Regions from separate parts of the Homo sapiens genome. Here region 2 is reported to be linked to region 1. Evidence: microRNA targets listed by miRTarBase, many of them from high-throughput screens and not tested one by one. Region 1 holds a microRNA gene; the other region holds the end of a gene's coding sequence.

The links. Region 1 holds the annotated microRNA hsa-miR-4299 (GCUGGUGACAUGAGAGGC, at 1,006-1,023, shown strand). A microRNA usually pairs through its seed, bases 2 to 8, with sites in the 3' UTR of a target mRNA and lowers its output. Matches are read on the target gene's strand: a 7mer-m8 pairs with bases 2 to 8, a 7mer-A1 pairs with bases 2 to 7 and ends in A, and an 8mer does both.
Region 2: the mRNA of IRS2 is a reported target of hsa-miR-4299. Seed matches in the 3' UTR shown: 7mer-m8 at 2,727-2,733.

Annotation. Positions count from the first base shown.
Region 1 is chr11:11,654,452-11,657,683 of GRCh38, reverse strand. It overlaps MIR4299 (microRNA 4299), which reads left to right and starts at 962; the gene lies at 962-1,033.
Region 2 is chr13:109,753,554-109,756,553 of GRCh38, forward strand. It overlaps IRS2 (insulin receptor substrate 2), which reads right to left. Exons shown (of 2, transcript NM_003749.3): 2 at 1-2,755. The coding sequence ends at 2,751. Among named protein-coding and RNA genes, the nearest start is that of LINC00676, 27 kb to the left of the region's middle.

The sequences.
Region 1 (3,232 bases):
AGTGTGCAGAGACATGGCACCCAGGGGCCCTGGCTTCCCTGGGTCACTATGCAGATGGCTCAATGTGAGCCGTTCTTGCTCTCTTTCAGAATTCTTTCTTGCGCTGCTAGTAAGGAAACAGGTGCTTTCCTCCTGGGCTGGCTGGAGCACTCCGTGTTTCCTGAGCTGGATAGATGTCATGGCCACATGTCATGTAGACCCTTCCTGGAACACAACACAAACTCGGTGACTTAAACCAACAGATATTTACTGTCTCATAGTTCTGGAGGCAGAAATCCAAAATTGAGGTGATAGCAGGATCATGTTCCTTCTGATCCTGTAGGAGAGAATCTTTCTTTGCCTCTTCCTAGCTTCTGGTGCTTTGCCAGCAATCCTTGGCATTCCTTGGCTTGGAGCTGCATACCTCAGTCTCTGCCTCGGTTGTCACATGGTATTCTTCCCTTGTGTACCTGAGTCTCTGCAGCTCTTCTCTTCTCACAAGGACACCAACCATATTGGACTAAGGGCCTACCCTACTCCAGTATGACTTGTTTTAAGAAATTACATCTGCAATGACCCAATTTCCAAATAAGGTCACATTCTGAGGTATTGGGGGTTAGGACTTCAACATATCTTTTTTGGGGACCCAACTCGATTTATAATAAGTAATGTTGTAGTGGGTGTCAAAATGAAGGTTTGGGGATATCATTAAGAGGGTAGGGCTAATTCATGGGGAATTTACGGTGCATTTAACCAGGAATCCTGGTAGGTTGTTGGGTGGTTGAGGAGTCAAAGTGAGCTTTGGGTTCTGCTATAATGACATGATGGCCAGGAACACAGGCCTGCCTAGATGCCAACCCTTCTTCCCACTAGATTATTCTCTAAGGAAGGTGCCCACAAGGAACAATGGTCAAATAGGAAACAAAACACCACCTACAAAACTGATCAAGCCTATTAGTAAAATATGGTCCATTGATTGTTTGGGTTCTGACCAATCATGTTACAGTGTTTTCTCCTTTAGAGAGAGCTGGTGACATGAGAGGCAGAAAAAGGACCATGGTGGGGAGGCCCTGATGTGAGAAGGTTGGTGGCAGGCAGGAGAACTCTAGCCACTAGTTTGAGGGTCTCTACTTTATGGAAGCATAGGTCTGAGAAAGGGGTTCTAGGTGATGATAGCCCTGTTCTTTGAACCAGGGTACCACATGAAGTTTCAATCTGGGCACGGGGATGGGTTCAGAGGTGCTCAGTACTGTATGCTGAATCTGCATCTGTAAGTCAGAGGAGACCAAGACTTCACTCCAGAAGCTGGGCTGGGAGCTGATTAAATCTCTCTTCCAACCTCCAGTTAGAATAGAGAGAGGCATACATGTATCCAAATGCAGTGTGTGTGGTTGTGGGGAGATGGAAGGGAAGGGAAGCCCAGATCCAGAGACTGGAAATCGAGTGAGAACCTGCCCTTTTGTCAACATGTTCCTTCTGTCGAGCATTCTTTATATGGTCCACAGTTTTCATCACTTGTTCAGTCATTCTGTGTCTCTCTCTATAGCTGTCATACTCACTTGGCAAAACTCCAAGCTGAATGTACTCAACCCATTACCTGCCAGAATTTGAGCAACTGTATGTTGCTGGAGAAAATCACACAAACTGAGAAGCTTCTTTTTAAATGCATAATCTCAACCCACCACTTGGTATTCAAACTGTAGTTAATAAACTTGCTTTTCCATCATTTAGGATGCTATTTCCTACCTTTGCCTATCTTCTCAAATTCCCTACTCCATTCCTGCACCCTTCACTCTGATCTAATTATCCTGTTTCAATTGTATTTAATTAAAAAAATTAGAACCATCAGCCATAAATGCCCCTAGCTTACATCTGAGTTCATTTGGGTCTTCTGCTTCTGGTCCTTCTGGTATAAAGGTGAAAATATGCTGTTCCCACCCCAGTTCCTGGAGCTGGATACTCCTGGAGTTCTAGATCCTGTCCTTTCTTACCTTCTCAAGGTTTTACTCCTCTGGCTATCTCCTATTCATCCTAAATTACCAATCCTACCCTCTTCTCTAGGGCTAGTCTCTTCAGTTCACAAACACGATTGACATTCCCTTAAGCCTAAAAGTCCTTTTTTGATTCCTTCATCCCTCTTCAGCTACTGCCCATTTCTCTGCATCGCTTCACAGTTTAACATCTCAAAATAGCTGTTTACATACTTGTTCCATGGTTTAAGCCTTTAATTAGTTTTCAGACTCTCGAGTTGGGTCTCTGACTTTAACACTTCACCCAAACTTCTTGTGTCAAGGTTACCAACAATCTCCAGGTTGCCAAGTCCAATGGACAATTTATACTCTCATTTTGCTCAGTTTCTCACTTGAGTTGTATCCCAGTGGCCACTCCTTTATTTGACAGTCCACCTTTGGTTTTCTTCCTTTCTCTAGATCTCTGACAATTTCATCCCAGTCTCTTTTATAGGTGCTCTTCCTGTACCAATGTCTACATATTGCTTTTTTTTTTTTTTTACAGTGCTTATTCTGTCTGCACTCTCTTCCTAAATGATTTATTTTCATGGCCCAAGATATCATCTGCATGCTGATGTTGTCTAAATTTATATATCCAGATCAATCTCTCCTTTGACCTTTAGATACACATATCCAACTTTCTACCTGCCCTTGCTGCCCTCACTCCCTCCTCCTTCTTGTGGTCCTCAATGTCTGTTGTTCATATCTTTATATTCATGTGTTTTCAATGCCAGAACAGAACTCTTGATTTTCTTTCCCCTGTAGTATCTTCAACCAGCTCCTCTCATAGTTTACCTATTCATTTTAGTAAATGGCAAGACTCTCCACCCACTTGCTCAAGCCAAAAATGTAAGTCTTATCCTTTATTTCTTCATTTTGTTGTTGTTTTTTTTTTTTTTTTTTTTTTGAGACAGAATCTCTCTCTGTTGTCCAGGCTGGAGTGCAGTGGTGCTATCATAATTCACTGCAACCTTGACCTCCTGGGCTCAAGAGATCCACCCACCTCAGTCTGCTAAGTAGCTTGGACTACAGATGCACACCGCCTTGCCTGGCTAATTCAATGTCTTTTTGGTTTGTTTTTTTTTTTTTTGTAGAGAGGGGTTCTTGCTATGTTGCCTAGGCTGGTCTCAAACTCCTGGGTTCAAGTGATTCTTACACCTCATCTTTTTAAAAAATCAATAAATCCTGTCATTTCTATCTCCTAAGTATATCTTAAGTCTGTCTGTTGGCTTCTGTTATTCCTC
Region 2 (3,000 bases), not on the chromosome of region 1:
GTTAATATTTGTTATGTATTTAGAATGGCATCCAGCACGTCATAAGGACTCTGTTTTGTAGAGTACATCGAATGTTCTGTTTTGTTATATAACACATTTACTTTTCATAAATGTTGTTATCTGGCAGGTATTTTTTGGCTTCCAGAATAAAAGTTTTAAAATTAAAAGGGGTATCCAAGTATTTTTAGGAGCCTAGTATTTCCTCACTTACTCCCAAACTCTAAAAGTAGATTGGCTTTATGTTAAACAGAGAATTCGTACAGAAAAAATCTTCAGGACTGTATTCATTTCATAAATAATGTACTTTATTTTATTGCATATGGCTATTAAGGAGGGCATCCATGATCAATACAGACTAAATACAATGCACTATTCTAGTCCAGTTTATTCTCGTCTCCAGCAGCATCACATTGACCCCTATATACAGCGTGTACAGTGGAAGACAGAGCAAGATAAGTTAAGTCTCTTGTCATATCACAATAGCAAGAAATATATTTAACATCTTGATATCCAGAAACAATACGTACCCAAAAAGAAAACACTGTTTAATAACTGTTAAAGTTTATATAGCAAAAAATATTTTAAATTTAAGGTAAGTCAGGCAAAATGTACAAAGACCCAATATACATTGTGAAGTTTTAGCAAACATAACATTTATACATTTTGGTTCCATTCTGTAAACTAAATTAAAAATGTAAATATTGCATATGCCTTTTTGTGAAATGTACAGGATAGAGGAAAATTTAGCATATTATCATCTGTGTATTTTGCTTGTTTTAAGCTGCAGTATGAACACGAACCATCTGTATAGTGTCATGACTACTCTACGGATAGAGGGCGAGTTAAATATGCGTCAATACACTGCTTTCAGCAGGGTCCATATTCAGTCCCTATCGTACCTGGGGGGAGTTACAAAGCAAATACCACCCATTGATGCCTATTCCCAAAACTAAATAAAAACTTCAGGATTTTTATACATCTTAATAAAGTATATCATACACTGAAATTGACCTTCCAGCTAACATTATATGGCCTATGCACTGCTGTGATGTATAATTTCAGAAAAGTAAAACCTTAAAAATGTTCAGGGAGATCACTTTACATTCAACTTTGTCTTGCAATACAATCCTCTGTTCTAAAGTTCAGCACGGAAGCAGGAAGACTTTTGCATTGCCATTAAATATATTTTTAAGACATTGAATTTTTTGGTCTTCCTCTAAAAAAGCCTCATTTTATTAATGCATTATTCTATAGCGATAGATATCTATTATATATTTATATATATTTTTCTAAAAACAAAACAAAACAAAACCAACAACTTACATCTCCAATGAATTAGTGTAACCTCTCCATGACTATCAGAGAAGATAGGCACTGGGGAAGCCCCCACGGGAGGAGAGGTCGACAGCCCTCCAATCAAGTGTCGAGGGAGCAGAAAACGGCAGAACATTCTGCCGGTCAAGTTCAGCAGTTTTAGGTAACATCTGCGAGAACTGCCACACACTGGTATTTTCAGAATACTGAAAACATAAAACAAGGGTAGTCTTGTCCGGAATTTTTTCGACAAGTAACATGTACTGCGAGATTGCTTTTCTTCTTTTTCTTTTTCCATCAATAACATAGGGGCTGGAATGCCTCTTTTTATCAGTTTCTTTCTTTCCTTTTTTTTTTTTCTTTTTGTTTTTTTTGTTCAGGGCAGCCTCACTGGTTGACATAATAACATTTTATTAAAGATAATACGTTTTTTAAAAATCAAATCTGCCAAACCCGGACCACCCTGGAATTGCTAGCACGCCTACAGGGATTTTTGGTTACAGAAAGGCATGCCCAAGATTCAGGAGAGCAGAGACATCTGAGCTTGTAAATAGAATAAAAGGCGTTTGCAATGTGAAGTACCTACATAAACATCTACATCGAGAAGATTAAACAAGTCTGTTAAAGGTAAAAAGAGATATTCATCCCCTTCCCAAAGCCCTTCCCTCCCACCTCCCACTACCCAATACAGTTGATTTTCAAAAGTAGGTTGCTTCAGTTACATATAATAATTATTATTTAGTAATCCGTCTTCAAAGTCCAATCCCAAATTTCACTTCCATTGAGAAATGTCAGTCCCACACTGGGCTCGGTGTGGACGTAAACATCGCAGGTACCTGCACTGGAATCCAACAAGCAGCTGTCTACTTGGACCATTTCAATAAGGCCGAGGACCGCGCTCCAGACACACAGCGCAGGGGCTACTACAGGAGGTCCTGTGGGACCCCCGCCACGGAAATCCGGCTTTACCTTGAACTGAGGTAGGACTGTGGTCGTTTTGAGTGTAAGCCAGTAAATACCAGATTTTACCACTTCCATAGGTACGGGTGCACTCTCCTAGCATGCTGAGGGTTATATCTGCTTTGCCAAAAGGAAAAGAAGAAGAAATTAAAAGACACTGGCCACAATTTAAGAAGGCCAATGAAAACATCCAATTTTCTTGAGAATAACTTCTTCAGCTAATTTTGTTAAAACAAAACAAAACAAAACGCAAACAGCACAATGATGAATGCCCCATCCGGGAACAAGGGAAAGAGGCAGGTGACCTTGCCTTGTTGGTGCCTCATCTAACAGAGTCCACAGATGTTTCCAAACACAGTCATTGCTCAGATCCAAAAGAAAACTGCAAGCAGCTTCGGGCTGAAACAGTGCTGAGCGTCTTCTTTTAATGATACTCTCTGACATGTGACATCCTGGTGATAAAGCCAGACAGATCTTCACTCTGAAAAAGAAAGGAGGGAAGTTAGCAGAGACCCTCAGGAGAACAGAGCAATCTCTGGAGTTCCAGAAAGGGCCCCTCTAACCCACAGCTAGGACCTGGGTCATTTTCATAAACTGATGACCTTTGAGAAAGAAACATGTATTCATTCTGTTTTCCAGAGGTGAGTTCAGTGGGAAAACTCTGAGTTTTCCTGGAAGCAGAGCTGTTAGGTTCATGGTGAGTTGTCTAGACAGTTAGGTTCGTAT